Homo sapiens: one gene and its partner. The main gene of each other region encodes a partner of the protein of the gene in region 2 in a complex. Each region holds a gene or a part of one and is shown on either strand. Other genes may lie near its edges. The genes, in order: IRAK4 and IRAK2.

Region 1 (16,520 bases), on a different chromosome or scaffold from region 2:
TTTCTATTGGCTCCACCTCAGAATCCTAGGACTTCTGCACTTGCTCTGCTACGACCCTGGTCCCAGCCTGCAGCACGTCCCACCTGGCTTATTGGTAGGCTCTCCTAAATGCTTCTTTCTTGCTTCTCTGTCCTTACTCCAACATCCTTTATTCCCAGCAGCCCCAGTATCCTTCTAAGACATGAGTACAGAGCATGTCTCTTTTCTCAAAACTTCCAGCATCTACATCTCACCCAGAGGATAAACAAAGTCAATACAAAAACTCTAAGGCCCTTGAAGACCTGGCCCCTTTACCTTTCTGACCTCATCTGCTACTTGCCTGTTCCCTCCTCTGCAGTCTCACCATGTCCTTGCTGTTGCCCAGTGGGCCCAGTTCCAACCTTTGCATTTACATTTCGTTTTGTCCACAAACTTTTCCCACAGATAGTCCAGTGGCTGGCTTTCTCCTTCTTTTTGACCTTTAATCAAATGGCACCTTCTTATTGAGGCTTCCTGTGACTACCATATTTATAATTACAACCTTTTCTCTATTTCGTTTTGTTCTTTCATTTCACTTGGCACCATCTAACATACTATAGAGTTTATTTATTTGCTTATTGCCTTCCTTCCTCCATTAGAATATAAACTCCATGAATTCAGGTTTTGGTTTTGTTTTGTTTTTTTTCTCTAATTTTCCTAATGCTTCATCTCCAGGGGCCTGGAGCAGTATCTAGCACAAAGTAGACACTCAGTAAATATTTGGTGAGTCAATGGTATTATATTTTGTTTTTTAAATATATGCAAAGCATTTTCAATTACTTACTGTTGTGTTGGATCAATGTTCAAGAAAGATATGTTAAGTTTAATTTATGGTACACCAGCACATATCCCAGTTTGTAATAGGCAGCCCTATCTAATTTAATAGCTCTGGAAGCCCTCACCAGCTTTTGTTCATAATGATGATGTTAAAGTATCTAAAAATAAAGATTAATGGTTATACAGCATATTTTGCTAAGAATATATGGAAGTAAATAGTGTATTTTAGAAAGGATATAAATACATTAAAATTACCATGGTTGATCAAATAAGACAGCCACCATCTCAAAAGCTTAGCTATTTTCTCAGACTTGTTATTTGTACGCTTTCAGTAGATCCTCACTACTGTTCTGGAAATTGAACCTAAATACAGTCTGCACATATCTTTAAAAATAATGTGATATAAGAATAATTTCTGCCAGGAAATAATAATTGCTCCTTTTTTTTTTTGACCACCTATTATTATGTGACAAGATTTGGCCCTTTGCATGTGTTGATTTTAATTCTTACAGCAATTCTTAGGTATTACTATCTCTGTTTTTCAGATAAAGAAAAGCAAGGTGCAGAGAAATGTATTTACTAGCTCTGGTCACAGTTGGCTTTGGTTAGAACTTAGGCCTGTGCAACCTCAAAGTTCATCTTCCCTCCACCCCTGCACAATCTTTTCCTCTGATCAAAGTGCTAATGAAGCAGTCTTAAAACTTTATTAACACATTTGACAAGAATCTTTTGCCCTCCTGTTTTGGGCACAGTACTTTGGGAAGGCATTGGATTCCATAAGCAGGTGCTTATTTTAATATATTTCTCAATCACCACCCCACCTTTTACACTTGTCTGAATTGTCTTACTTGAAAATATGAATGGGTTTTCTTTACTATGAGAGTTAGTGGTATGAGGAAACAGTCATGAAGGTATTTACTTATTTGTAAGCAACATATCCTGTTCCACCTGTGTTAATCCTAAGTGTACTAAAGTAAATCTTGAAGAATTTGAAAGAGATGACACTTTTTAAGTTTTTTTTTGCCCAGTCTGTTTTCATTATTGAAAATTCAGAAAAGCAAAATGAAAACAAAACTATCATAAAAGTCATCACCAAGGGATAACCACGTTAATATTTTGGCTTATGTTCTTGTAAGTATGTGGTTGGGAGTGGTATATGAATATACATTTAAAGTAAAATTTTAATTTCTGGGATTTTGAACTTCTGGGCACATGTGTGGAGGAGTTGCAGAAGGCCTTCTTTTTCCTAGTATCCCTACACTTATCACCTCTGCTGGAAGCCTGGGTGCAGGAGAGCTACCAAATTTATCCCTGGCCTTTAGATAGTCTGGGTTTTTTCCTCAATTCCTTGTATTTTGCTCTAATTTATAAGACTACTAAGCAGTTCTATCTTGTCTAGCTTTGTCAATCATGTTGTACCTTACAGTAGAGAGAAATCTTAGTAAGGAAAAATAACTTGAAGAGAGCAACTGCAGAGTCTATAGGCAACCTAGATACAATTTCTTAATTAAAGTTAAAAAGTCATCAGCCTTTCATTCAACACAAATGTTGTGAGTCGTTGCTGAGGTGAATTTGGTTGGGTCCTAGCTCAGGAGAGCACCCATCTAACAGAGAAAGCAAACACATAAACAGTAAAACATAATAATTATTATAACAGAAGAATGACTAGGTGACATTTTGGAGCAAAAGAGATGACAATCAGGGGAAGCTAACAGTGCCTTTTGAATTGGGCTTGAAGGAATAATAGGCATTTACCAGGTGGCCTTTAAGGTATGTGGGCTATTCTTTTACCTGGCCCTAGATGACTTCATTTCCTGTTTCACAGAAAAAATAACAGTATGTGGGAACTCTTCTCCCTTCAAATATATCTGTATTTAAACCTCTGCTTCCTTCTTTCTAGATTCAAAAGAGGTTTCTCTCTATTCAAGGCTGATTTCTTCACCCTATATGCTATTCATTATCCCATTTGTATTGCCAAACAGCTTAAGTCTTAAACCCTTAACACCAACAGTTCTCAAAAGTCTGGTTGGAGTCCCTAATGCTCTTTCAGGAGATTTGTAAGGTCAAAATCATGTTTAGTTAAAAGATTCATTCAGAGTGCAATGGATTTTAATGTTCCAAGTTAATTTATACAGCTTCAGATTCCTCATTGCAGCTTACCTTTAGGAAGTTATTTCTTGTCAAATTTTAGTGTAGTATCAAAGAGAAATATCTACTACTTTGTGAAAAGGCTATTAAAATACACCTTTCTTTATAACTATATGTCTGTGTGAAGCTGGATTTTCTTCATATACATCAACCAAAACAACATGCTGCAGTGGGTTGAGTGCAGAAGCAGATACAAGAATTCAGCTCTCTTCTATTAAGTTAAATATTGAAGAGATTAGCAAAACTTTAAAACAATGTTGTTCTTCTGTTTTTGAGGAAAAGGTAATTATTTTATTAAAATATATATGCTAACATCTATATTTATGATTATTTTAAATGAATTAATAAGTAATTTTTAAGTTTCTCAGCATCAATTTATTATGGTAAATATTGGTAGATATAACCAACATAAACAAAAGCCCTTTGGGGTCTACAATAGTTTTTAAGAGGGTAAAAGGTCCTGAGACCAAATTTGAAAACTGCTACTCTCTTGCATGCTCTCCTCCCTCTCTTTCCCTACCCCTCCACCCCCATTTTCCCTCCCCTCATACTCCTCTCTCTCTCTTTCTCCTTCCCTTCATAACCAGACTTCTTGGAAAATCTGTTTTTGCCATTCACTCACTTTTTCACTATAGCTGTTCCCAAGTCACCAATGGCCTTCTGATTTCAGAGTCTAACATATCCATCAGTGTCTATTTGACCTCTCTGAGTCTTTTATACCAACCTGCCACCTTTTCTAGAAGTCTCTGGTATGCTACCATCCTGGTTTTTTTCTTGCCTTCATGACTAAGCAGTATTTTTTAAAATTCTTCTTTCACATCATTCCTTTCCATTCTAAGCATTCCTAATAGGCAACCTCATTTTATTGTTGCTTCAACTGTATATGTGTATATGCTCTTAATTTGTATGAGGGCATTTCAAAAAGTTTGTGGAAAAATTGAATTAAAAGATAAAAAATGTAAACTTTGGCTCAGCACTATGGCTCATACCTGTAATCCCAGCACTTTGGGAGGCCGAGGTGGGCAGATCACCTGAGGTCAGGAGTTCAAGACCAGCCTGGTCAACATGGCGAAACCCCATCTCTACCAAAAATACAAGAATTAGCTGGGTGTGGTGGTGCACACCTGTAATCCCAGCTACTTGGGAGGCTGAGGCAGGAGAATCGCTTAAACCTGGGAGGCAGAGGTTGCAGTAAGCCAAAATTGCACCACTGCACTACAGCCTGGATGATAGAGCAAGACTCCAAAAACAAAAACAAAACTGTAAACTTTATTTCTGAACATAAGCCCATGAAGTTCAAGACACTTTTGTAAGCGATAACACCAGCCATTTGGGCCATCCCTAAAGAACTGAGAGTCCTGGGAATTTAACCACATCAATGAAGTCTTTTTTACATTATTAACTGAAGAAAAATGGGTGCTCTATGAAGATTTTTCAAGATTGGGAAACAAAAAGAAGTCAGAAGGAGACAAATCAGGACTGTAAGGTGGATGCCTAATGATTTCCAGTTGAAACTCACAGAATTGCCCTTGTTTGATGAGAGAAAAGAGCAGGGGCATTGTGATGGAGAAGGACTCTGTGGTGAAGCTTTCCCAGGTGTTTTTCTGCTAAACATTTGACTAAAGCTGTAACAGAAAAGCTTTAGTTTAGAAACACTTAGAAAAGCTACTGTTTCTCAAAACCCTCTCTAATAAGCAGATGTTACCATTCTTTTTCCCTCCAGAAAGTCAGCAAGCAAAATACCTTGAGCATCCCAAAAACCTGCAGCCATGCCCTTGCTTTTGACTGTCTGCTTTTGCTTTAATTGGACCACTGCCACTTTGGGGGAGCCATTGCTTTGATTGTGCTTTAGGATCATACTCGTAAAGTCATGTTTCATCTCCTGTTACAATTTTTTGAGGAAATGGTTTAGGATCTTCATCCCACTTGTTTAAAGTTTCCATTGAAAGCTCTGCTCGCATCTGCAGCTGATCTGGGTACAACAGTTTGGGCAGCCATCAAGTGGAAAGTTTGCTCAACTTTAATTTTCAGTCAGAATTGTATAGGCTGAACTAGTTGTCTATGGTGTTCACTGTTGGTTCTGCTGTTAATTATAGGTACTCTTCATTTAGGGCACAAACGAGATGAATGTTTTCCTCGAAAATCGATGTGGATGGTCTGCCGCAGCAGGCTTCATCTTCAACATCATCTCATCCCTTAAAATGAGTTACTGATTTGTACACTGCTGATTTTCTGGGGGCATTGTCCCCATAAATAAAGCATCAGTGATTTCACCATTCTTCCAACCAACCTCCACCATAAATGTGGTGTTTGTTCTTGCTTTAGTTTTAGCAGAATTCATGTTGCTGTGGTAGAGGTTCTTTTCAAACTGTCTTATTCTTCTCAGTGTCTCAACTAGATCCTGTTTAGACATGAATGATAAGTTAGTATGAGTTTATTTTGGAAATACATTTTGCAAAAAAAAAAAAATTGAAATCCATGCATGGTTTTTGCACGATATGCATTTTCCATGAACTCTTTGAAAACCCCTTATATATGAGAATACTTACATAATGAGCATTCTTTGCTGAAACCTCTCTCCTAAGCTCCAGACCACATATATAAGTACTTGGTATGAAGGCTCCTAGATAGTGCCAAAGGTAGATATTTCACATTTAACATGAGCCAAAAAAAAAAAAAAAACTTCATTCTATCTCCCTTTCTTCTAATCGCTCATCTCTAGTGAAATTGTTTTGATTTGGCCTCCTAAATGTTTTGACGTTTTACCTCTCCATTCCCCTACCCTATACTTTTTCCAAGCTCTCCTTTCTGCTCACCTGGATTATTGCAGAAGTTTTCAAACTAATTTTCTTGCCTCAATATACATCCCTTTGATTTTTATCCAGAGGAATCCACTTAACCATATAAGATTATTTAACATCCCTCCTAAAAATCCTAAAGTGGCTCTCCTGTAACTTTTAGTTTATAAGTTCAAACTCTTTGTCTTAGCACATGAGGTACATGATGATCTGGCCCTGCTACCTTTCCACCCTCATCTCTTCTCACTTAATCACAGGCATCCTGTGGTCCAGCCATAGCAAGCTCTTTGCCTGAGACACACATGCTCTTACCTTTTCCCATGCTATTCCCTCTGCCTGGAATTTTCTTTTGGGCTTATCCTCATTCCCTTTCATTCATCCTTCCAACCTCCTACTCCAACCAAATCTGTCTTGATATCCCTATTCCAGACTGCCTCTGCTTGATGCCCCTTTTCTGGGCCCCATAACATTCTTGCAGCATTTATCACTCCCTGTCACTGTTTGTATCCCCTGGTATACTGAACAGCTTGGAAACAAAGATTTTCTCTTCTCTGTGCTCCCACTTGTTAGTACAAAGACTGACATAAATATTTTCTGAATGTATTCATGAATGAAAGGAAAGGAATGGTCTTTCTGAAATAGAGAATGGCATGAACAATGCATTGTGTTATAAAAGCAGAGTTGTATGGCATGACTTTTGGAGTCAGACATAATTGTAAGTCCTGGATCTCTCACTTACCACCTTTGTAAAATAGAGATGATAAAACTGTACTGGGAAATAATTTAGTTGTTCCAAAAGTAAATACTGAACAATACCATTATCTACAGTATGCAAGTCACTAGGTGTATATTCATGAATAAAATTAGCATGGTCCTGAACTCATGGATCTTAAAATCGAATATGGGAGACAGTAAACAGGTAAACAAATAAGTATATGATTACAAATACATTGTGCAGTGATGAAAGATAATTAGGTGAAGGGCAGCTAGACCTATTTAGATGTGGTCAAAGAAGTCCAAAGAGAAGAAGTGAATACTAACATAGAAGCCTCTGATACAGAGAAGCTTTTCGCTTTTTACTCTTTTTGATAGTTTTAGAATGTTGTTCCATATGAACACATTATTTACTCTAAAATTGTATTTTTAAAATATATATAGGGAAGCAAAAATAATTGACAGAAGAATATCTGAGTCTATTTGTCTTAATTGGAAGGAAAGATCATTTCCTATTGAGAATGAGGGACACGCAGAACAAATAAAATCCACATAGAAAGAAGTAAAGGTATGAAATAGTCACTAAGGACTATGAGAGAAGACAAGTGGAAGGATTAACGGCAGTGTTGAAGGCCCTGTGGAAAGGGGGTTACCATAAATTTGTATTCACATCAGCAACCCTGGTGTACAAGTAAAGTTGTTAGATTTATCCCTGGCTGCAGCTCTCCAGGATGGAGTAGCAGAAGTAAAGGGGGATTGCAGAAATAAAGATTCTGTCTAGAGAGTAGTTGAAGTGGTGAAGCACAGGTTTTGGCGTAGTAGCAAATGAATTGTGGTCAGGCAGATCTCATGGACTCAAAAAATGTGCAGAGGTCAAGGAAGAGCAAAGTATGTGAAAAGTGGGTGGGTGGACCATATCTGTTAATGCTACACAAATCATTTCAGTACGTTTTTTTTTTTTACTTCTACCAAAGAATGTTGCATAAATTTTAATTGTAAATAAGTACTAATTGAGAAACATAAATTGAAAGGTAAATGTTTTTATTAATAGATTTGATTTCTGAATATGCTAATTCTGATAGTTTGTTGATATTACTCTTAAGAATTTTTCTGGTAAGTTTTTTGCCCCTTTCTATAAATTTTACTAGGAAAATATCAGTGTCAGAAAAAAGTCCTCCGATTTTTATTGCTATTAATGGGTGGAAAAAGGAAGCAAACCCAGAGGATAATTGGACAAATGAATTACAATTTTAATTTCATCTTAGGATATCAATGACTTGACTTTGGAATGTTTCTTTATTATGGTATAATCAGTTGCTGACATTTCATATGATATAGCAAAGTGTGATATATAAGCTTACAGATGTCATCTCTAAAAGTACTGTAAAATTTTAATGAGATTTTTCCATATTTTAGGAATAGAAGATGAACAAACCCATAACACCATCAACATATGTGCGCTGCCTCAATGTTGGACTAATTAGGAAGCTGTCAGATTTTATTGATCCTCAAGAAGGATGGAAGAAGTTAGCTGTAGCTATTAAAAAACCATCTGGTGATGATAGATACAATCAGTTTCACATAAGGTAACAGATAAAATTCTTTGTATTTTTAAATTCTTACATCACAATATGGAATGATTAATTGGTATAAGTACTGTCTAATGTGGCAGTTTAGAAAGTAAACCTCTCCACTATGGAGGAGACATTGGTAGTAGGTAACCTCTTTTTGATTGTTCCTTTTGCAGTTTTGTCTTCTTTGTCCCATATGTCAATAGGGCTAATACTGTGATCTCTCAAATAAGTTTTTTGGGTTAGAATCAAGATTCCCACCTTTGCTGTGGTTCCCTGTTTGGCAAGCCAAGTGAAGTTCACTCTGCCTCACACTTCTCATTTCCAGATTGAAGGAAAATAAGAATGTTACAAGAATGTCTGGTAAAAATCTAGAGCTTAAATTTCAAAGTGTGTGAATCTCTAACACACTCTAACAATGTATTTTGGGACTTTTTCAATTTGACGTTTTAAAGTTGTTGCTTACAAGTGTACACTTCTGTGCACAGAATTCTTAAATCTTAGCTAGGATTTCTCAGTGCTGTCTTCAGATAATTTCAATTTTTCCTTTTTACTCATCTCTGCTCAATTTAGTGTAAAATATGCATGCATATTTTATTTTTGTCAGTCATTGCAGTTAAAACCTATGTCAAAATGTTTCTTTGGTAGCAAAAGGAAAAGAAGACTATTTGTTATTTTCAGCATTAATCTGGGAAAGAACCTAAAAGACTTGGCTCCCTTGCAGGAAATATTTCCTCATAAGAAGAGCGAACATGTTAAATTACTTGAAAGAAGCTTAAGTTTAAACTGTGTTAAGCCAATGTTTAAAGATAATTTTTTGATATTACTGTTAAAAACTTATGGAAGATAATTGGGGCAGTGGTGGCAGGAAGATAAAGCTCTTCTCTTTTTTTTTTCTTTTTTCCAAGACTCATTCCTGTGACAGAAAAAGCTTTTCTTTACAGAATAATACCTGCAAATAATTGTGAAAAGAATGGTAGAATGAGAAAAATACCTATTTGCAACCACCAATGAGTAACTGATTCATGCAAGGCTCATCACTGAACCTAAAAGCATAAGGTGAAAGGTGGTTGTTCTCGTGCATGTGAGCAGGATATGCACAAGATTTTAAAGTATTATAGGCTGAGCACAGTGGCTCATGCCTGTAATCCTAACACTTGTGGAGACCGAGGTGGGCAGATTGCTTGAGCCCAGGAGTTCAAGACCAGCCTGGACAACATGGTAAAACCCCATCACTACAAAAAATTAGCTGGGTGTGGTAGTGCACGCCTGTAGTCCCAGCTACTTGGGAGGTTGAGGTGGGAGGATCACCTGAGCCCAGGAAGTCAAGGCTGCAGTGAGCCATGATCATGCCACTGCACTCCAGCCTGAGTGACAGAGCAAGACCCCCTCAATAGATAGAGAAAAAGTATTGTACACAAATTACTTGTGAAGTATGAAAGAGAAGGGTACATTTTTAATGAGGAAATCTGAAGTACACTTCCTTCACCAAGTGATCAAACTTTAGCACCAATAATAATGGTACAAAATGCTAATATGTACCCCTGGATGTGATACAATGGGAAAGGCACATTATACCTATGTAGTATTTCTACCAAAATGCTTAATCTGAATTTAATCATGAGAAAGTAGTCAGATAAATCTAGGCTGTTAGACCCATTCTATAAGACATCTGGCCCGTATTCTAAAACACACACACCCACAGACACAGATTGAAAGAGAGAATGCACAAGAGCCCAGATATGGCACAATTTTATCAATTATTCAATTGGTGAATCTAGGTGAATGGTTGTTCATTCTATCATTTTTTCAACTTTTCTGTAAGTTTGAAATTTTTAAAAATAAAATCTTTAGAGGAAAAACAGAAAGAAACAATATTGGTTAAATTTTTAAATGTTACTTTTCAAAACTAATTTTTGATTTTAAAGAAATGGAAAGAAATGGGTTGAAAGCCGACTTTGTGATTTTTTTCAATTTAATTGAATTACAGTTAAGATCAAAGGAATAATTTCCTAAGTTTTTGTGTGTTCTGTTTCTTTAATTAAGCAGGTGCATTTATTAAAAATTATATAGCTATCAGAGTCTTAAGTCATGTGGGAAGTAATATTGCTAGTAGATTAAGAATACACTCTTTTGTCAAATGAGATCTGAATTTGTACCTCAACTTGGATACATCATATTGGCTGTGTGGCTATGGGCTGGTTACTCTACCTCTCCAAGCCTGGCTTTTTCACTAGTAAATTCATATGATAATCATAATATCTTTGAACATGCTCATGTGTGTGCATCCTATAACCCACTAAGTAAATATCCAGTAAGTACCCAGTAAATTATTATCATCATCTTTGGCATCTTTTTTCCTCCTATCTTTCCTGTCTCTCTGTAATTCTTGCTGGTTCTCTTGTTGTCCCTTTTCTTTAATGTTGTAGGAGATGCTGTGGGCAAAATGGGCAGGGGAGATCAACACCTATTTTCATATGACCTCAGTTTATAAATGCTATTGTTTGAATGTGTCCCCAAAAGTTCATGTGTTAGAAACTTAATACCCATTGCAACAGGGTTGATAGGTGGGACCTTTAAAGGGTAGTTAGGCCATGAGAGCTTTGCCCTTATGAGTGGATTAATGTCGTCATGGCAGGAGTGGGTTAGTTATCTAGGGAGTGGGTTTCTGATAAAAGGATAAGTTAGGCCCTATTTTTCTTTTTCTCTCTCTCTCTTTTTTTTTCTCTTTCACATGCACGTGTGCATGCTCTTTTGCCCTTCTGCCCTTCCACCATGAGATGATGTAGCAAGAAGGCCCTAACCAGATGCAGCCTCTCGATCTTGGACTTCCCAGCCTCCAGAACCGTGAGCCAAATTAACTATTATTTATAAATTACCCTGTCTGTGGTATTCTATTATTGCAGCACAAAATGGACTAAGACAATAGACTAATTTTGTTTCTTTGTTACTTACTTTTAAGGAGATTTGAAGCATTACTTCAAACTGGAAAAAGTCCCACTTCTGAATTACTGTTTGACTGGGGCACCACAAATTGCACAGTTGGTGATCTTGTGGATCTTTTGATCCAAAATGAATTTTTTGCTCCTGCGAGTCTTTTGCTCCCAGGTAAACTGATTGTGACCAGGGTGTCCACAATTAGGGTGGAAAGACAAATGGCAGAAATATAAATGTTTCTTCTTACTCTTCCTTTTTTCTCATAGTAGATGAAGCTTACATTTGAGAGTCCCTTTCTTTCAGCACTCCTCAACTCTTTAAAAAGCAGCACAGACAAAGGACACTGTGGACTCTGCTGCTAAGGTGATAGAAGCTTCGTAAGAGTTAGATAGTTTTGTGCCAACAGGAAGTTTAGAAGGAAAGACTTCATACTTCTGGCTTAGGCTGTAAGAAAGTAATTATAATTTTGAGTTCTTCCTTTTTTTCATCTTCAACTTCTACCCTGATGGGACTCTATAATCATAATTTTAAAAAATTGTATTCTGATGTGGTAGTGTCTAGTTGCCTTCCTTATAAGCTTTCTTTTTTTCCTTTGATGCCTTTCACACCAGTGGTTCTCAACCTTTATCATGCATAAGAATCACTTAGGTTCTGGTTAAACATGTAGTTTCCTAGGGTCTGTTCCAAATCTATGTAATCAGAATTCTGGAATTGGGTTTAAGGTCTATATTCTTAAACAGGTGCTTCAGTGCCTCTGATATAGGTGGCTCATGGATCACTGTTTGAAAACACTGCCTTACTCTCTTTACCCATCTTCATTATAACTTACAGATTCTTACTAGGCAGCTTCTTGTGTGTGCTGTGAGAATATGAGACCAACCTGTAGAAACTGGAATGATATTAAATGAACCAAGTTTCTAGTTTAACTTTTTCACAACCACTTTTTCTTACTGAAAAACCACTTGTATCTTACTTCATTTGTTAGATGCTGTTCCCAAAACTGCTAATACACTACCTTCTAAAGAAGCTATAACAGTTCAGCAAAAACAGATGCCTTTCTGTGACAAAGACAGGACATTGATGACACCTGTGCAGAATCTTGAACAAAGCTATATGCCACCTGACTCCTCAAGTCCAGAAAATAAAAGTTTAGAAGTTAGTGATACACGTAAGTAACATTTTCAGTGCTTTCCACTAGGGATTTGTCATTAAGACTACCAGTGCTTTAAAAGAAAGCTCTTGCTCTTTTGTTTGTGCAGCAATCACAGGCACACTGGCAATAGCTCTTTTGTGAGTTGTTTCCTCCTGATATATTAAGAACCATCTTCATTGTATTAATCAGTGATTAGAGGCAATAGGACATGCAAACAACCAGAGAAGCTATGAAAAAAAATAAGTAAATATTTACATAACTTGGAAAGGTCACTTTTTAAAATAAAATATGTGACTAGAGTTTTGGGTAGGTAGACTAGACCCACTCAAATGTGTGACTAGAATTTTGGGTGGGTGACTACAGTGTTCAGAGGGTAGGATCACCAAACAGAGTTCTCAAGAAAAACTTATAATTTGTATTTTAGAAATGGTTTTATCTTCTCTCATCTTGTCTAATTCAAAATCATAAATATTTGCATATATGTGAAATCTTCAAATGAGAAAATATTATAATTATTAAAACGAATTTTTAAAATTTAAGCATGTTTTTCTTATTTTGACATAGGTTTTCACAGTTTTTCATTTTATGAATTGAAGAATGTCACAAATAACTTTGATGAACGACCCATTTCTGTTGGTGGTAATAAAATGGGAGAGGGAGGATTTGGAGTTGTATATAAAGGCTACGTAAATAACACAACTGTGGCAGTGAAGAAGCTTGCAGCAGTAAGTTATATTTTCAGGAATAAAAAGAAAGAGTTGCTTCATAGTGTGCCCTATAATAGGTTTTAAAGTTAATCTTTAGGAAATACATTATTTCAGTATGTATTTTCTTTAAATAAACATCATTCTAAATAGTAGTTCTTAAAATTTTAAAATCTGTTGAACACTATGGACCCTACCCCTAGAAAAATGTGGTTATGTCCATGTACACAAGATCATACATACAATTTTGGGAGATTCACAAACTAAAGTTGAGAAGCCCTGCTCCACATAGTGCTTCATGTGTAATCAAGATTAAAATGGTAAGATACCAGGAAAACTATTTTTAAAAAACCTTGTTTGCATTACTTTTCCCATTTAAAAATAAAATTTAGGAAGTATACATTAAGAAAAAACATTAAAATTTTTTTTATCTGTGTCCTTTGTTGCCATTTCTACTGAGGTGTTTACCTTTTACTTACTTGTTATATTCTAAATCTTTTGTTAGAGCCTAAAAATATCAATAGAATGCATATGTATGTGATAAAGATAGTCACTCTTTGTCATATATGTTGCAGGGCTTTTGTAGGGTTTTTTTTTCCATTTTGCACCTAAATTGCTTATGTTTTCTGTTTCCTAGAATTTTTTTCAAATTTTTTTGTGTAGTGAAATTTCGTGTTATTTCATTTTGTTTCCACAACTCAGTGAAATTTATATATATTTTTCATTCCACTAACCAGCCATGGGCCTTGAGCAAATCACTAGTATTTCTAGATCTCAGTTATTCTGTAGAATTGGGAGAATAATACACTATTGTTTTAAAGAAAGGGAGATGAGCCAGCTGATCTCTTGATCCCTCTGAGCATTAGGAACCTTAGAATTGTGTAGTATTACATTGTATATTTTATTTTTTCAGATGGTTGACATTACTACTGAAGAACTGAAACAGCAGTTTGATCAAGAAATAAAAGTAATGGCAAAGTAAGTCTTAATCTGGCAGTGCGGTGTAGTGGAAAGAAAAAAGACAAGGAGTAAAGAACCTGGTTCACTCTAGAGTATGCCATGAACTAGTGATGTTTGCACATATATGAAATTAAAATAAAGTGTTTAGATTAGAGAAATTGAAAGTACTTTTGGCTCCATAATTCTATGATTACATATACTCATATGCCTGGAGATTAAATAGCAGTCATTTTTATTTATTTATTTTTTTTGAGACAGAGTCTCGCTCTTTTGCCCAAGCTGGAGTGCAGTGGCATGATCTCGGCTCACTGCAACCTCTGCCTCCCAGGTTCAAGCGATTCTCCTGCCTCAGCCTCCCGAGTAGCTGGACCTACAGGCGTGTGCCACCATGCCTGGCTAATTTTTTTCTGTATTTTTAGTAGAGACGGGGTTTCACCGTGTTAGCCAGGATAGTCTCGATCTCCTGACCTTGTGATCCACCTGCCTCAGCCTCCCAAAGAGCTGGGATTACAGGCGTGACCACGCCTGGCCGCAGTCATTATTTTAAGTCACAACAAAGTTACGTGAAATTTCACTATCATGTCCTTCATTATCATGTTTTCCACTTCCAGAATTCATGAGAGATCAATTGTAGAGATACTTAAAAACAACTATCTATAGAGTAATAGGCCCTTATATATAAAGTAGCATCTATAGAGCAACTAGAGTCATGTTATCTGTAAGGATGCTTAGAAGGCATTGATCCTGTGTGCTGGAAAATTGTTGGACATCATCAGGAAAAGTAGGAGGGACAAAGTAGGAAATGTATTCTAATTATTATAGTGATTAATAGTGATTGATATTTGAGTGTGTGCAACATGCCAGACATTGTGCTATGTACTTTATGTGCATTGTCTGTCTAACCCTTACAACTGTTACAACTGCCCATTTTGTTTGTTAACTGAGATTTAGAAACATTAAATAGCTTGTCCAAGATCACATAGCCAGTAAGTGTTAGAGATGGGATTGAAATCCAGATCTGTTTGATTGCGGAGCCTGAACTTTAGATCTGAATCGTAATGGGATTTACCAAATTATACCCATTAAACCCACTGCTGTAAATCACCAATCATAGTTACCTAACCTCAAGTAAGAAGAATAGACTAGAATTGATTTATGCACGGTAAAAATGATACATGCTGAAAAAAGATCAAACTTTTTTTTTCAGGATTTGTCTTCTTCACTCCTACCCCTACTCTCCAATTCTAAAAGTAACTTGTTCACAGTAGGTCATCTGGAAAATACAGGAAAACATTTTTAAAATATACAAGCCTATATGCATGCAGGACTTAATACGTAGGTGATGGGTTGATAGGTGCAGCAAACCACTATGGTACACGTTTACCTGTATGACAAACCTGCACATTCTGTACATGTATCCCGGAACTTAATAATACAAACCATCTCTCAAATATATCACTCAGAGATAACCACTGCTAATATTTTTATATACTTGCTTCATGATGTGTGTGTAGCATTTTCCCATGTCACTAAAAATAATTTGAAAACATTTTAAATTATTGTACAACAGTCTAGCATATGTGAAAATCATATTTTATTTAACCATAGCTAGGTTTGTTTCTAATTTTCAGTATTAAAAATAAAGCTTCTTTAAAGTTCTTTGCACATAAATCTTTAAATGCAGTTATACTTACTTTATCATCTAGGGTAAAGTCCTAGAAAAAGAATTACTAGGTAGGAATGCATGAACTTTTTAAAGACTTTCTAAATACACATTCAAATGGCTTTTGAGATAAGTTACTACCAGCAATGTATTACAATTTCAAACTTTACTGGTTCCTTACCTTCATTTAATATCATTACTTTTTTTTTTTTTTTTTTTTTTTTTGAGACGGAATCTCGCTCTGTTGCCCAGGCTGGAATGCAGTGGTGCGATCTTGGCTCACTGCAAGCTCCGCCTCCCAGGTTCACGCCATTCTCCCGCCTCAGCCTCCAGAGTAGCTGGGACTACAGGCGACCGTCACCATGCCCGGCTAATTTTGTTTTTGTATTTTTAGTAGAGACGGGGTTTCACCACGTTAGCCAGGATGGTTTAGATCTGACGTCGTGATCTGCCTGCCTCGGCTGGGAATACAGGCGTGAGTCACTGCGCCCGGCCTATTATTACAATTTTTTAATAAGTGCCAGTCTCTGGATCTTACTAGCAGAATGAACTTGGCCAAGTTTTTTAACTTTCTATTCGTTAATTTTCTCATCTATAAAATGGGACAATAGTACTTACTTAAGTTATTGTGAGGATTAAATAAAACAGATAAATCACTTGCCACACTGCCTCGTTTATAGTATAAATTCAGCAAACGTTAACTACTCATGTTTAAAATGTGCCAGTTTGGTGGAAAATGGGACACTTACTGTTTTAATTTGCACTTCTTCAAATATTTATGAGACTAGAAGAAATTGATATAATGAACTGCTAGAATTGTGGATCATTTTGAATGAACAAAATGAATAAGCACTTAAATAATAAAACACTTATCATGTGCCAGATACGTTTCTAGGCTGTCATGTTTACATTTGCTCATTTAATTGTCTCAGCATCCATATTACATACTGTTTTCTGCATTTAGCAGATAAAGGAGCTGAGGCTCAGTAAGGCTGTTAACTTGCGGTAGGTCACATATCCAGGAGGGGGCAGAACTAGACTTTAAATTTAGGATGTATAACTCTGAGCCCTGTTTTC
Region 2 (16,520 bases):
TGCGGGAAGGGCCTGAGGATGCAGCAGAGAGAGCAGTGGGGGCTCCTCTGCCTTCCAGGATTGACCAAGGCTGAATGTGAAACTTCCGTGGTCTTAAAGCCTCACCCCAGGGAAGAGGCCCTGTGGCACTGAGGGAGGAGCTCTACACACACGCTGCTTGCGGAAGAGAAGGAGAAGCAGGTAGGGGACTCTGCAAAAAGAGAAAAGGAGAAAAAGAAGAGGATCTTTATTCTCTTTTACCCCCGTGTGCCTGGGATGGAGATGCTTCTCCACCCAGCCTATGGCAAACAATCATTACAGTTCCCAAGTCCACCTTCAGCCACTGCTGAAAACACAGGACTTCACTTGAAAAGTAGTCTCAGAACACTGAAATATGTCCCACTTTCAACATCAAGGAGGACATAATAGTAATCCTTTACTGGGCTCAGCACTTCACAGTTGATCTTGAGCGTTTTGGAGTCCATTTAGGCTTCATAACAATCCTTCCAAGTGGCTGCAGCAGGAGATCCAGTTTCCAAAAGGGAAAACAGAACTGGCTCAAAGGACTAAGAGCCGGAGAGTGGCTGAACCAGGTCTCCAAACTTGATAGGACTCCAAGGCCAGTGGGTGCCTTTTCAAGACCACTAATGACAGCTACCATTTTTTGGGCACATTCTCTGTGCGAGGAAAGCCCTGTAGTAGGTGTTCTATATAGGCTACATAATTTGATTTATTCCACTCCCCTCACAACTCTAAGCAGTAGGAAGGAGCAGGCCCACTTTACAGATGCTGGAAACAAGGCTTGACGAATGAAATGAGTTGTCCAGAGTCACAAAGCCTGTTGGTGGCAGAACTGCAACTTGGCCCTAGGACTTCTCACTTTGATTTCAGCTTCCTCCTTTTGCAGCGCTACTCCATAGCTGACGGCCACAGCTATACAGTGGTACCTACTCTAGTTACTTATCTGCCCTTCGTGACCTCGCCTAACCTCTTGGAATCTATTTACTTCTGTGTAAAATGGGGATAATAATATCTATAGTATAGGCTTGTAAGAATGACATAAGATCATTTTTGCAAAGTACATTGTAGATACAGATAAATGTATCTGTATCTACAATATACTTTAGCCAGTGGTGATGGAGAGCCTGGGGTCAGAATACTTAGGTTCAAATGATTTTAGCCATATTATTTAACCTCTCTGTGCCTTAGTTTCCTTATTTGTAGAATGGGGCTATAACCATACCTACCTCAGAGGGTCATTGTAAGGAGTAAGTAAAGTAACCCAGGTGAAGGCTACACATAGTAAGTGCTCAATAAATACTAGCTATTTTATATATGTGTGTGTGTATTTTATATATATATATATATATATATATATATATATATATGTATACACACACTATAAATTCTGTTCCTTGTACCCTCTTTGTTTATTTAGAGACAGGGTCTCACTCTCACCCAGGCTGGAGTGCAGTGGTGCAATCTTGGCTCACTGCAATCTCCACCTCCTGGGCTCAAGTGATCCCCCTACCTTAGCCTCCCAAGTACCTGGGACTACAGGCACATGCCACCATGCCTGGCTAATTTTTGTAGAGACAGGGTCTTGCTCTGTTTCCCAGGCTGGTCTCGAATTCCTGGGCTCAAGCGATCTGCCTGCCTCTGCCTCCCAAAGTGCTGGGGTTATAGGTGGGAGCCGCCGCACCCAGCCCCTTATACCCTATTTAATAATCCAGTTTGTCCTGCAGTCCCCTGCACCATACTCTGCTTTTTTCCCAGTAATAGTATCATCTAAGATAATGCAATTGGCCACTTGCACTCCCTTTTACCACCCTCTACTTTTATTCTTTCTTTTCTTTCTTTTTTTTTTTTTTTTTTTCAGAGACAGGGTCTCATTCTGTCACTCAGGCTGCAGTGCAGTCATAGCTCACTGCAGCCTCAAACTCCTGGGTTCAAGAGATCCTACCACCTTAGCCTCCTGAGTAGCTGGGACTATAGGTGTACACTACCATGCTTGGCTCATTTTAAAATTTTTTGTAGAGGCCAGGCGTGGTGGCTCATGCCTGTAATCCTAGCACTTTGGGAGGCCGAGGCAGGCGGATCACGAGGTCAGGAGTTCAAGACCATCCTGGCCAACACAGTGAAACCCTGTCTCTACTAAAAATACAAAAATTAGCTGGGCGTGGTGGCGCGTGCCTGTAATCCCAGCTACTCGGGAGACTGAGGCAGGAGAATTGCTTGAACCGGGACCTGGGAGGCAGAGGCTGCAGTGAGCCAAGATTGCGCCACTGCACTCCAGCCTGGGCTACAGAGCAAGACTCCGTCTCAAAAAAAAAAAGTTTTTTGTAGAGATAAGATCTTCCTATGTTGCCCAGGCTTCTACTTTCATTCTCCAACATAGCTTATCTGCCTATTTTTATTGCTTGTTGTCTGTCTCCCTCCAGGACAAGGATTTTGTCCTTCTCTTCAGAGGTATTCCCAGCACCTACAACAGTGCCTGGCACATAGTAGCTGCACGATACATATTAGCTACTATAGTAAAGTCTACCTGACTACCCTATTTAATAGAATATTCCCCATGCTCAATCTGAATTCCTGATTCCCTTTAACCAACTTTTTTTCCTTTTTTTTTTTTTTTGCAATAGTGCTTATTACCTTTAAGACACTCTGTAACATACTATATTTATTATTTATTGTTAGTCTTTCTCTCCACACCTAGATTGTAAGTCTTATGAAAGCAAGGGCTTTTGTAGGCTTTTTTTTTTTTTTTTTTTTTTTTTTGAGACAGAGCCTCACTCTTCACCCAGGCTGGAGTACAAGGGCACAATCTGGGCTTACTGCAACCTCCGCCTCCAGGGTTCAAGCGATTCTTCTGCCTCAGCCTCCCAGGTAGCTGGGACTACAGGCGTGCGCCACCGTGCCCGGCTAATTTTTGTATTTTTAGTAGTGACGGGGTTTCACCATATTGGCCAGGCTAGTCTCGAACTCCTGACCTCGTGATCCGTCCGCCTCGGCCTCCCAAAGTACTGGGATTACAGGAGTGATCCACCGCGCCCGGCTGTAGGGTTTCTTATTCAGGTATTACCAACACCTAGGGAGTTGCCTGGCATACAGTAGGTAATTAATGGAGTATTTGATGAGCGCATGATGCATGGTGTAGTGCCGATGGAAGTGGGGTCAGAAGGCCTCCTGCCGCTGCGGCAGAATTCCCGTGTGGCCTTCTCCCACCAGGGCCTCAGTTTCCCCTCGCAGTTCCGATTCTCTGGCCGGCGCTGGGGTGGAGCCGGCGGGGCCGTCGTGCCGCCCGTGGCCGCTGGGGACGCTGGTGCCCTCCCGCCCCGCCCACTTCCCCGCCGGTCCGCCCCTGGCTAGAGAAGCCGCAGCCCGCAGTGTCCGACCCAGTCGTCCCGCGCCGGAGCCGGCCCCGTAGCGTGCCATGGCCTGCTACATCTACCAGCTGCCCTCCTGGGTGCTGGACGACCTGTGCCGCAACATGGACGCGCTCAGCGAGTGGGACTGGATGGAGTTCGGTGAGTGCGGCCCGGGGAGGGGAGGGGACCAGGGCGACCGGAGCCCCCAGCGATCCCGCCTGGAGCGGCCGCCAAGCTCCCTCGGGCACCCGGGTTCAGCGGGTCCCGATCCGAGGGCGTGCGAGCTGAGCCTCCTGGACCGGGTCCGCCGCGGACCTCGGCCTGTCACCTGAAGGTGCCGCGTGGTCTCTGAGGACGTCTGTCGACGAGCAGGGGCCGCCGCCACTGCGCTCTGAGTCCAGAGAACGGTGGGTACGGGGGCCCTCCTGTCAGCGCTGCTGGCTCGGTGACGTCCCCAGGTGGCCTCTCATCCAGCCCACAACAGCCTGCAAAGTGCGAGCCTCGACCCTGTAGGGACCCACGGTGCTGTCACTTCTTGGGGGGGTGTGTGTGTGTGTGTGTGTGGTGTGTTTAGTTTTAGTGTATATTAGAAGGATCTATGATTTAACATATATATATATATTGAAACGGAGTTTCGCTGTTGTTGCCCAGGCTGGAGTGCAATGGCACGGTCTCGGCTCACTGCAACCTCCACCTCTGGGATTCAAGCGATTTTCCTGCCTCGGCCTCCCGAGTAGCTGGGATTACAGGCGCCCGCTACCACCCTGGCTAATTTTTTGTATTTTCAGTAGAGACCGGGTTTCACCATGTTGGCCAGACTGGTCTTGAACTATTTTTTTTTTTTTTTTTTTTTTTTTTTAAGACGGAGTCTCACTCTGTCGCCCAGGCTGGAGTGCAGTGGCGCGATCTAGGCTCGTTGCAAGCTCCGCCTCCCGGGTTCACGCCATTCTCCTGCCTCAGCCTTCTGAGTAGCTGGGACTACAGGCGCCCGCCACCACGCCCGGCTAACTTTGTATTCTTAGTAGAGACGGGGTTTCACCGTGTTAGCCAGGATGGTCTGGATCTCCTGACCTTGTGATCCGCCCACCCTGGGCCTCCCAAAGTGCTGGGATTACAGGCATGAGCCACCGCGCCCGGCCTCCGGAACTCTTGATCTCAGGCGATCCACCTGCTTCGGCCTCCCAAAGTGCTGGGATTACAGGCGTGAGCCACTGTGCCCAGCCTATTTATCATATTTGTGATTAAATGTACTTTACCATTATAGTTTTAAAATCAGATATTTACTTTTAGTGTACATTGTTTTGATCACAGTATTTATGACTATCAACCTGTTTTGAGATCAGATGTGTCCTAATAGATTCAGTGTGTATAATGGGGCCTAAGCACAAGCACTTACTTTCACTCTATTGCAAGGTGCACAGTTCTAGATAATTCCGTGGGAAGGCACTCAGACAGCCTCCATATGTTTTGTTTGTTGGTGCCTGACGGATGACTGGCGGAGAGGGCCATGGACTCTGCGGGGAGGCCGCTTGCCTGTTGTCTCTGCTTTCCAGGTGGAGATCTGCATTCCAGGCTCTTGCTGTATGACTTTGGGCCAGTTTGTTAACCTCTCTGAGCCTCAGCTTCTGAATCTGTATGTAAACTGGAGATGATAATTATAGCTTCTTCATAAAGTTGTGAGGAATGAAAATACTGTATAAAAGCACTGACACCTAAGTGTTAAATATTCTTATAAGTCATAAGTTGTAATATTCTCTTTTCATTTTTATTTTTTTGAGACAGTCTCATTCTGTGGCCCAGGCTGGAATGCAGTGGCGAGATCTCGGCTCACTGCAGCTTCCGCCTCTTGGATTCAAGTGATTCTCTTGCCTCAGCCTCCCGAGTAGCTGGGATTACAGGCATGTGCCACCACGCCCACTAATTTTTATGTTTTTAGTAGAGATGGGGTTTCGCCATGTTGGCCAGGCTGGTCTCGAACTCCTGACCTCATGTGATTTGGCCGCTTTGGCCTCCCAAAGTGCTGGGATTACAGGCGTGAGCCACTGCTCCTGGACCTGGCTTCACTACTTTGAATGTTTCCTGGGCAGTGAACAAACTTTGTGTGAGACTCCCTCTCATTTTTTCCACATTGGCCCAGCCCTCAGTTACAAATGCCAGAACAACTTCTGTTTCTAGGAAATTCAATTAGAAGGCATACCTATGACTTAAAAAAAAAATAAAGCTTTACTGAGATATTCACATACCATACAATCCACCTGTTTCAGGAGTACAATTTAGTGGTATTTAGTATATTCACAGGGCTGTGTATCCATCTTCACAATCAATCTTAGAACATTTTAATCACCCGAAGAAGAAACTCTGTACCCGTTAACTTCCAATCCCCTCCTTCCATTTTCCTGAGTTTTAGACATTGCCTATTTTGGACATTTCATATAAATGGAATCATATAATATATAGTGCTCTGTGACTGACTTGTTTCAACTAACATGAGGTTCATCCATGTTGTAGCATGCGTCAATACTTAGTTTCTTTTTTTTTTTTTTGAGACGGAGTCTCGCTTTGTCACCCAGGCTGGAGTGCAGTGGCGCAATCTCGGCTCACTGCAAGCTCCACCTCCTGGGTTCATGCCATTCTCCTGCTTCAGCCTCCCTAGCAGCTTGGACTACAGGTGCCTGCCACCATGCCCGGCTAATTTTTTTGTATTTTTAGTAGAGATGGGGTTTCACTGTGTTAGCCAGGATGGTCTTGATCTCCTGACCGTGTAATCCACCTACCTCGGCTTCCCAAAGTGCTGGGATTACAGGCGTGAGCCACCGCGCCCAGCCAGTTTCTTTTTATTGTAGGATAATGTTCCATGGTATGGATATACTACATTTCATTCATTTATCAGTTGTTGGGCATTGGGTTCTTTTCACTTTTGGGCCATTGTGAATAGTGCTGCTGTGAACACTCACATACAAGATTTTGTGCAGTGGTGCAAATGTAGCTCACCGCAGCCCCAACTTCCTGGGCTCAAGCGATCTTCCTGTCTCCTGAGTAGCTGGACTACAGGTGTGCACTGCTGCACCCAGCTAACTTTTGTATTTTTTGTAGAGACAGGTTTCACCATGTTACTCAGGCTGATCTTGAACTCTGGAGCTCAAGCGATCTGCCCATCTCACCTTCCCAAATTGCTGGGATTACAGGTGTGAGCCACTGCATCTGGCTTTATGTTTAACTATTTGAGGAGCTACCAGATGTTTTCTAAAGTGGCTGAACCACCAGTGTATGAGGATGACCATTTCTCCACATCCTTGTCAACATGTGTTATTTTTTTCTTTTTTTAATTTTTTTTTTTTTGAGACAGAGTCTCGCTCTGTCGCTGAGGCTGGAGTGCAGTGGCATGATCTCGGCTCGCTGCAACCTTAGCCTCCTGGGTTCAAGCGATTCTTGTGCCTCAGCCTCCCAAGTAGCTGGGATTACAGGCATGCACCACCGTGCCTGACTAATTTTTGTATCTTCAGTAGAGACAGGGTTTCACCGTGTTGGCCAGGCTGGTCTCAAACTCCTAACCTCAGGTGATCTGCCCGCCTCGGCCTCCCAAAGTGCTGGGATTACAGGTGTGAGCACCATGTCCGGCCTTATTGTTGCTTTTTTGATGGTAGCCACCTGAGCCAGTGTGAAGTGGCATCTTACTGTGGTTTGATTTGCATTTCCCTAATGACTAATGCTGTGGAGCATCTTTTCCTGTGCTTGTTGGCCATTTGCACATCTTCTTTGGAGAATACCTCTGCGAGGCTCCCCACTGGGATGGATATGATCTGAACACCTTGCCAGGCATGTTGACTCTGACACATCTGCCCAGTGCTGGCCTCTCTGACCTCCTCTTCTTCCACACCCACTGTCACTCCCCTGCTCCAGCCACACTGACCTCCCTGGGCCAGACACAGGGTCTTTGCAGGTGCTGTTCCCTCTGCCTGGGACGTTCTTCCCCCTGTGTTACCTGGGGCTAGCTTTCTAGTCTATTAGTTTCCTCCTGTTGCAGTTATAGATTACTACAATATCAGGGGAACCAGCCCGCAGTATTTCAATGTAGGTTCTTTTCTATTTTCCCTAAGTGTCGGCCGGTCTGAGAAATAAAGAGTACAAAGAGAGAAATTTTACATCTAGGCCTCTGGGGGTGCTGTTACACATTGGTAGGACCGTGATGGTGACCCCGAGCCACAAAACCAGCGAGTTTTTATTAGGGATTTCAAAAGGGGAGGGGTGTACGAATAGGGAGTAGGTCCCAGAGATCACATTCTTCAAAGGGCAATAAAAGATCACAAGGCAAAGGTGAAATTAGAATTACTGGTGAAGGTCCATGTCCCACTGGGCACGCATTGTCTTGATAAACATCTTAACAGGAAACAGGGTTGGAGAGCAGACAACCCGTCTGACTAGAATTCACCAGGCTGGAATTTCCCAATCCTAGTAAGCCTGAGGGCACTGCAGGAGACCAGGGCATATTTCATCCCTTATCTCAACTGCATCAGACAGACACCCCCAGAGTGGCCATTTATAGACCTACCCCGGGAATGCGTTCCTTCCCCAGGGTTATCAATTATTAATATTCCTTGCTGGGAAAAGAATTCAGCGATATTTCTCCTACTCACACGTCCATCTATAGGCTCTCTGTGAGAAGAAAAATATGGCTCTATTCTGCCCGACCCCACAGGCAGTCAGACCTTATGGTTATCTTCCCTTGTTCCCTGAACATCACTGTTATTCTGTTCTTTTTCAGGGTGCCCTGATTTCATATTGTTTAAACACCCACGTTTTACAATCAGATTTCATATTTTTCAAACACACGTTTTACAAACAATTTATACAGTTAATGCAATCATCACAGGGTCCTGAGGTGACATACATCCTCAGCTTATGAAAATGATGGGATTAAGAGATTAAAGACAGGCATAGGAAATTATAAGAGTATAAATGTCCATAAAATCTTCACAATTTATGTTCAGAGATTGCAGTAAAGACAGACGTAAGAAATTATAAAAGTATTAATTTTGGGAACTGATAAATGTCCATGAAATCTTCACAAGTTGTATTCTTCTGCCGTGGCTTCAGCCGGTCCTGTTCGGGGCCCCTGACTTCCCACAACACTACAAAGTTGGTGGCCTGTAACACCTCAAGTTTATTATCTCAGCATTCTGGAGGTCAGAAGTCCTAACTCAGGGTGGCTCTAGGGAGGAGTCGGTCTCCTGGCCTTGACTGGCTTCCTGAGGCCTGCAGCATCCTGTGGCTTATGGCCCCTTCCTCCATCATCAAGGCCATGGGTGTGTATCATCACATCTGTCTCTGTGACTTCTGCTTCTACCATCACCTCATCTCTGAATCTGATGTTCTGGCCTCCCCCTTACAGGGACCCTGGTAATTACCTTGGCCAGACCCAGAGAATCCAGGATAATCTCATCTCAGAATCCTTGATTTAATCTAACCTGCAAAGTCCCTTTTGCTATGTAAGGTACCATATTCACAGGTCTCGGGGCTTAGGATGTGGATGTTTTCCAAGGGTATTATTCTGTCTGTCACAGTCCTTCAGGTAAGCTCCTGTGGCACCTCTTTGAAATCAAGAGGACTTTCCTGCCCCTGTTCCTCTCTAGCCCATCACCGTGTTTCATTTCCCTCATTCCGCTTCACAGCCTTTGATGTCCCCTCGTTCCTGAATTTTTTCCACCTGTCTCTCCCTATGGAATGGAAGCCCCGTGCGGGCAGGGGCCTTACCTGTCTAGTTTTTCACTGCTGTATTCCCAGAGCCTGGGACAGTGCCTGGCTAGAGGGCAGGTGCCAGAATGAATGATGAGCTGCCAGGCCTTGGTGTGGTGAGGATGCGGGCTGCCCACTCTTACCCATTGGAGCTGGCCTGGAGCCTTTGGTCAGCCCACTTCCTACACTGGATCAGAGCCAGCGGTGCCTCCGGCCCACTGCTCCTCGCCCAGTCCCAGTGCTCCAGTTCCCTCTTCAGCTGAATGAACGAGTGACTGTGATTGACCCTTCAGTCCTAAAAATTCTTGGCTTCCTGTGGGTCATTTTAGAAAGAAGACAGTCCCTCAGAGCTGATGGTGATACTGGGAGAGTGTAGTGAGAACGCTAAAGTGATTCAGAAGATCCCGCAGCCACAGACAGCCACGCTCTTTCAGATCCGACACTTGTTGGCAGATAATCTGGCCACGCCTAGTTCTTGTCTCCGTGATGGCAGCTGCCTCTGTTGGGCTTTGCCTGAGCCTGTGTAAAAAGGGTTTCCTACAGCTTCAGCCCCAGGTGTGTGCAGAGGGGCTCGGCGCAGGGGCTCTTCTGTGTGTGGCCGTTCCCCGTCTCGTTCACTCATGCGTGTGCCAGCCTTTGTGCACAGCCCTGCTTTGCCCTGCCCAGCTGTGTGACATCAGGCAGGTGACTATCTCTCTCTGAGCCTTTAGTTTCCTCATCCATGAAGCACCCTCACAGTGTTGCTGAGAGGCTTAGGAGACTCAGCTTATTGTAAAGGGTCAAGTTAGGGCTTTCCTCATCCCCCACCCAGGGAGGGGTGTGGGCATTCGATTCTAAGATGGGTCATTTCAGGAGGCTGTGCCATCCCTGCTGTGGAGGACTTTGAAGACAGGCAAGGTTTTCTACTGCCTCGGGTGAACTCCTGCAGGATTCAGGAACTCAAGAGTGATAGTCCCTGTACTGTTAATCATCAGGGATAAAAACATTTTCAGGCCAGGTGCAGTGGCTCACGCCTCTAATTTCAACACTTTGGGAGGCCTAGGTGGGAAAATTTCTTGAAGCCAAGAGTTTGAGACCAGCCTCGTGATCCGCCCGCCTCAGCCTCCCAAAGTGTTTGGATTACAGGCGTGAGCCACTGCACCCAGCCTTTTTTTTTTTTTTGAGACGGAGTCTCACTCTGTTGCCCAGGCTGGAGTCCAATGATGCAATCTCAGCTCACTGCAACCTCGGCCTCCTGGGTTCAAGTGATTCTCCTGCCTCAGCCTCCAGAGTAGCTGGGACTACAGGCGCCCGCCACCACACTCTGCTAGTTTTTGCATTTTCAGTAGAGATGGGCTGGGCGTAGTGGCTCACGGCTGTAATCTCAGCACTTTGGGAGGCCAAGGTGGGAGGACCACGAGGTCAGGAGTTCGAAACCAGCCTGGCCAACATGGTGAAACTCTGTCCCTACTAAAAATATGAAAATTGGCCAGGTGCGGTGGCTCATGCCTGTAATCCTAGCTCTTTGGGAGGCTGAGGTGGGTGGATCATGAGGTCAGGAGATTGAGACCATCCTGGCTAACACAGTGAAACCCCGTTTCTACTAAAAAAAAAAATTAGCCGGGCATGGTGGCAGGCGCCTGTAGTCCTAGCTACTCAGGAGGCTGAGGCAGGAGAATGGTGTGAACCTGGGAGGTGGAGCTTGCAGTGAGCAGAGATCGCACCACTGCACTCCAGCCTGGGCGACAGAGCGAGACTCCGTCTCAAAAAAACAAACAAACAAAAAATTAGCCAGGTGTGATGGCACTCGCCTGTAATCCCAGCTATTCGGGAGGCTGAGGCAGGAGAATTGCTTGAACCTGGGAGGTGGAGGTTGCAGTGAGCTGACATGTGCCATTGCACTCCAGCCTGGGCAACAAGAGTAAAACTCCGACTCAAAAAAAAAAAAAAAAAAAAGGCCGGGCGCGGTGGCTCATGCCTGTAATCCCAGCACTTTGGGAGGCCGAGGTGGGTGGATCACGAGGTCAGGAGTTTGAGCCCAGCCTGGCCAACATAGTGAAACCCCGTCTCTACCAAAAATACAAAAATTAGCTGGGCATGGTGGCACATGCCTGTAGTCCCAGCTACTCGGGAGGCTGAGGTAGGAGAATTGTGTGAACCCAGGAGGTGGAGGTTGTGGTGAGCCAAGATCGCGCCACTGCACTCCAGCCTGGGCAACAGAGCGAGACTCTGTCTCAAAAAAAAAAAAAAAAAAAAAAAAGTAGAGACGGGGTTTCATCATGTCGGCCAGGCTGGTCTCAAACTCCTGACCTCGTTATCCGCTTGCCTTGGCCTCCCAAAGTGCTGGGATTACAGGCGTGAGCCACCGCACCTGGCCAAACTCTATGAAAAACAGGTTTTCATAGAATGTAGATAGTTTAACACTTACAGCTAATACTTATATCATGTTTATTGTGTGTTAAGCACTGTTCTGAGTGCTTCTGTACATAGAACTCATCTAATCCTTGCAACAATCTCGGAGGCAGGTGCTGCTGTTATCCTTGTTTGACAGATGAGGAAACTGAGGCTCAGGGGGAGATGAACACCTTCCCCAAAAACACAGCAAGTAAGCAGCAGAGACAGGATTTGAACCCAGGCCCCGAATCCCAATATCTGGCCTCTGAACCACCACTACTGTCCTGCTGACTTTCGCACATGTTTTCATATCTGTAGAAAAAGTCTGGAAGATTAGACACCAAAATGTAACTGGTGGTGTCCTTGGAGTCCTCCAAGTGGGATAATCATGGGGACTTTCATTTTCTTGTTTCCCAAATATTCTACGATGACCAGCTATTACCTGTCCATGCTGAGAAAAAAGCTGCAGCTTAGCAGAAGGCCTTGGTAGTGACTCATCCCCTCAAGATCTCTATCATGTCCCGACTCTAAAGGGTCTGGTTGAGACTGGGTACGGTGGCTGATGCCTGTGATCCCAGCTCTTTGGGAGGCCAAGGAGGGTGGATCACTTGAGCTCAGGAGTTTGATACCAGCCTGGCCAAGATAGTGAAACTCCATCTCTACTAAAAATACCAAAAAATTAGCCGAGAGTGGTGGCACATGCCCTGTAGCCCCAGCTACTTGGGAGGCTGAGGCAGGAGAATTGCTTGAACCTGGGAGGCATAGGCTGCAGTGAACTGAGATCACGCCACTGCACTCCAGCCTGGGCAGCAGAGCAAGACTCCGTCTGAAAAAAACTAAATAAAATAAATAAAGGGTCTGGTTAAATGCTGATTGGTCAACACCTTAAGATATGGCACCGTCATGGAACAAAAATGTCTAAGCTGGAAGGCACCTTAGAGTTTAATTCCTGTTTCTCTTGTATTACCATCACGAGTAAGGAAAGTTCAGCCCACAGAGAGTCAGGCTGTGGCTGAGTTCCTGCTGCCACCCACGAGGGGTGGCCCTGGGCTTCTGTTTTCCCATTACGTCATGCTGCCTCCCAAGATGGGAGTGTGTGTGGATGACCAATGCTTCGTGGGGGGAGATGGTCCTTCCTTTTCCATCCGTTCTCTTCTCTGTATTGCTAGAAGCAGCCGCTGACCCAGCTGACATCACTTCCCACTGACCAGCAATCTGGCCTGGGGTTTCCAGTGACTAACATAGCAATTTAGGAACTTTCCATCTTAATTGGGCACTTCTCCTGGAGGCTTTCTGTGTGCAGGAGACTGTCACCAGCCCATTTTGTCCAAAGGGTAGGGGATTGTGCAATCTGGTCACAGCACTCACTGGCTCTGAAATTTTCTGTGGTCCCTTGTAACTCTTAGGATCAAGTCCAAACTCCAAAGCTGGGCATTCACTTGAGGGTCTTTGTTATGTGGTCCTGGGCTTCATCTCTTGCCTTCCCTTCTTCTACTCGGCCCACCTATGTTTATATATTTTTTTGTTTTGTTTTGTTTTATTTTTTTGAGATGGAGTCTCACTCTGTTGCCCACGCTGGAGTGCAGTGGCGTGATCTCGGCTCACTGCAACCTCTGCCTCCCGGGTTCAAGTGATTCTCCTGCCTCAGCCTTCCACGTAGCTGGGACTACAAGTGGGCACCACCACGCTTGGCTAATTTTTGTATTTTTAGTGGAGATGGGAGTTCACCATGTTGGCCAGGCTGGTCTCGAACTCCTGAACTTAGGTGATCCGCCCACCTCAGCCTCCCAAAGTGCTGGGATTACAGGCATGAACCACTGCACCCGGCTGATTACTCCTAGTTTTAATAAAAATGCCTTTCTCACTTCAGTAAACCAGTGGAATACTGGTCATAAAAATCCATTTATGGGCCAGGCACAGTGGTTCATGCCTGTACCAAAAAAAAAAATTAGCCAGGAATGGTGGTGTGTCTGTCATCCCAGCTGCTGGGGAGGCTGAGGTGGGAGGATTGCTTGAGCCTGGGAGGCCAAGGCTGTGGTGATCCATGTTTGCACCACTGTACTCATGCCACCTGGGCAACAGAGTGACACCCTGTCTCAAAAAAAAAAAAGATTTTTAAATTTTTATTTATTTTTAATTTTTATATTTTTGAGACTCAGTCTCTGTCGCTCAGGCTGGAGTGCAGTGGCACGATCTCAGCTCACTGCAACCTCCACCTCCTAGGTTCAAGTGATTTCTCCTACCTCAGCCTCCCGAGTAGCTGGGAGATTACAGGCGTGTGTTACCACACCTGGCTAATTTTTGTATTTTTAGTAGAGACGGGGTTTCACCATGTTGGCCAGGCTAGTATCGAACTCCTGACCTCAGGTGATCCACCTGCCTCAGCCTCCCAAAGTGCTAGGATTATAGGCATGAGCCACTGTGCCCAGTCCCTGTGGTATAATGTTAATAAATAAGACCAGGATGCAGAATCTCAGGTGAGGCATGGTGGCTCACACCTGCAATCCCAGCACTTTAAGAGGTTGAGGTGGGAAGATTGCTTGAGGCGAGGAGTGCGAGAGCAGCCTGGGCAACATAGTGAGACCCCATCTCTTAAGAAAAGGTACAAAATCAGCTGGGCACGGTGGCTCACGCCTGTAATCCCAGTACTTTGGGAGGCCGAGGCAGGCGCATCACAAGGTCAGGAGATTGAGACCATCCTGGCTAATGTGGTGAAACCTGGTCTCTACTAAAAATACAAAAAAATTAGCCAGGCGTGGTGGTGGGCGCCTGTAGTCCCAGCTACTCGGGAGGCTGAGGCCGGAGAATGGCCTGAACCCGGGAGGCGGAGCTTGCAGTGAGCTCAGGAGTGCACCACTGCACTCCAGCCTGGGTGACAGAGCGAGACTCCGTCTCAAAAAAAAAAAAAAAAAAAAAAAGAAAAGATACAAAATCTTACCTGCAGCGTGGCAACAACTACATCCAAAGACACATCTATGTAGAGGGGGTGATTTTTGGAAAGGGGAAGTACCCTAATGGCCTTAGGAGGGTGGTGAGATGCTGTGTAACTTTTCCCCCTGTATTGTCCATGTTTTTTTTTTTTTTTTTTTTTTTTGGTGAACAACCATCAATTTTATGGTAAAACACCAAAAGAAAGAATGCATTATTTTTATTGTTACTAGTGGTAGCTCCCTGCAAGTTTTGTCCCATACTTCAGAATTGGCAAAGTATTTTTGTATCCATGGCTCTCTGATCCTTATAACAGTTCTGTGAAGACGATGTGGTATGTGTGTGTGTTTTCATTCAGTCATTCACTTAGCATATCTTTTTTGTTGTTGTTTTTGGAGACAAGGTCTTGCTGTGTTGCCCAGGCTGGAGTGCAGTGACATCATCGTGGCTTGCTGCAGCCTCCAACTCCTGGGCTCAAGTGATCCTCCCATCTCAGCCTCCTGAGTAGCTAGGACTACAGATGCATGCCACCATGCCTGGCTACTTTGTTTATTTATTTATTTATTTATTTTGAGACAGAGTCTCTCTCTGTCTCCCAGGCTGGAGTGCAGTGGCGCGATCTTGGCTCATTGCAAGCTCTGCCTCTCGGGTTCATGACATTCTCCTGCCTCAGCCTCCCGAGTAGCTGGGACTACAGGTGCACGCCACCACGCCCGGCTAATTTTTTGTATTTTTAGTAGAGACGAGGTTTCACCATGTTAGCCAGCATGGTCTCAATCTCCTGACCTTGCGATCTGCCCGCCTTGGCCTTCCAAAGTGCTGGGATTACAGGCGTAAGCCACTGCGCCTGGCCTACTTCGTTTATTTTTTGTAGAGACAGGGTCTTTTTTTTGTTTTGAGATGGAGTCTCGCTCTGTCGCCCAGGCTGGAGTGCAATGGCGTGATCTTGGCTCACTGCAAGCTCCGCCTCCCAGGTTCACGCCATTCTCTTGCCTCAGCCTCCCGAGTAGCTGGGACTACAGGTGCCCGCCACCACGCCCGGCTAATTTTTCTATTTTTAGTAGAGACAGGGTTTCACCGTGTTAGCCAGGATGGTCTTGATCTCCTGACCTTGTGGTCCACCTGCCTCGGCCTCCCAAAGTGCTGGGATTACAGGTGTGAGCCACCATGCCCGGCCTACTTTGTTTATTTTTTGTAGAGACAGGGTCTCACTATGTTGCCCAGGCTGGTCTTGAACTCCTGAGCTCCAGCAATCCCTCCTTGGTCTCCTAAAGTATTGGAATTACAGCTGTGAGCCGCTGCACCTGGCCTCATACACTTGTTGAGTTCCCCTGACCAGGACTGGGACTTAGCTGAGAGGAATGAGATGCCCAGGGCAAAATGTAAGGAGGCGCTGATGCTCAGGGTCCTGCGGTGCCACCTGAAGATGAGCGCCTCCTGCATTTTCCTTCCCTAGGTGCCTCACCTGACTCACCCTCATCCTGGCCCCACCTCCACTCTGAACCAGGCACTATTCTCAATTCTGGGGAAGTAACAGTGAACCAAACAGGTAGAGCTCCCTGCCTACACGGACCTTCCATTATAGAAGGGGAGGCAGGCAGAGCTAGTACCCACTGAGGCTCCCACGGGCGCAGTGACTGCCCCAGGCATAGCAGCAGCCAATGCTCAAGGCTTTGACCCTCCTGTCCCGTGGTCTTTCTCCTAAGTCATATGTACTGGACCCCATGGGTGCCCAGCAGAGTCAGCGTTGTAACTTGGGCCACCTGTGGACCTCAGCTAATGGTGGTGTTTCCAGTGTGGAGGCGGTGGTTGGGGAGGATGTCCTGGAAAAGCCCAGCTAGGGGCTAGTGTGGGGACCTGTCCTAGAGGGACTGCCTCTCTGACTCTAAGCAGAGTTCTCTCCGTCCCTTCCAGCCTCCTACGTGATCACAGACCTGACCCAGCTGCGGAAGATCAAGTCCATGGAGCGGGTGCAGGGTGTGAGCATCACGCGGGAGCTGCTGTGGTGGTGGGGCATGCGGCAGGCCACCGTCCAGCAACTTGTGGACCTCCTGTGCCGCCTGGAGCTCTACCGGGCTGCCCAGATCATCCTGAACTGTGAGTAACTCAGGGCCCTCCTTGAGTGGGGCCCATCACGCT

The links.
Region 1: the proteins of IRAK2 (region 2) and IRAK4 are in contact, whole or in part, in a crystal structure (PDB 3MOP), measured with the Homo sapiens proteins. Residues at the interface, in NP_001561.3 of Homo sapiens: Tyr6, Ile36, Lys44, Met48, Glu59, Trp62, Trp63, Trp64, Gly65, Met66, Arg67, Gln68, Ala69, Gln73; in NP_001107654.1 of Homo sapiens: Asp24, Phe25, Pro28, Gln29, Lys34, Glu92, Phe93, Phe94, Ala95, Pro96, Ser98, Val105.

Annotation. Positions count from the first base shown.
Region 1 is NC_000012.12:43,760,232-43,776,751, forward strand, and holds part of IRAK4 (interleukin-1 receptor-associated kinase 4), read left to right. Parts: intron 1-693; exon of another isoform or gene 694-741; intron 742-3,070; exon of another isoform or gene 3,071-3,225; intron 3,226-7,871; 5' UTR 7,872-7,880; coding exon 7,881-8,041; intron 8,042-10,806; exon of another isoform or gene 10,807-10,873; intron 10,874-10,988; coding exon 10,989-11,134; intron 11,135-11,948; coding exon 11,949-12,131; intron 12,132-12,680; coding exon 12,681-12,841; intron 12,842-13,733; coding exon 13,734-13,798; intron 13,799-16,520.
Region 2 is NC_000003.12:10,161,543-10,178,062, forward strand, and holds the start of IRAK2 (interleukin-1 receptor-associated kinase-like 2), read left to right. Parts: upstream 1-3,376; 5' UTR 3,377-3,412; coding exon 3,413-3,506; intron 3,507-16,295; coding exon 16,296-16,478; intron 16,479-16,520. UniProt on the Homo sapiens protein: Binds to the IL-1 type I receptor following IL-1 engagement, triggering intracellular signaling cascades leading to transcriptional up-regulation and mRNA stabilization.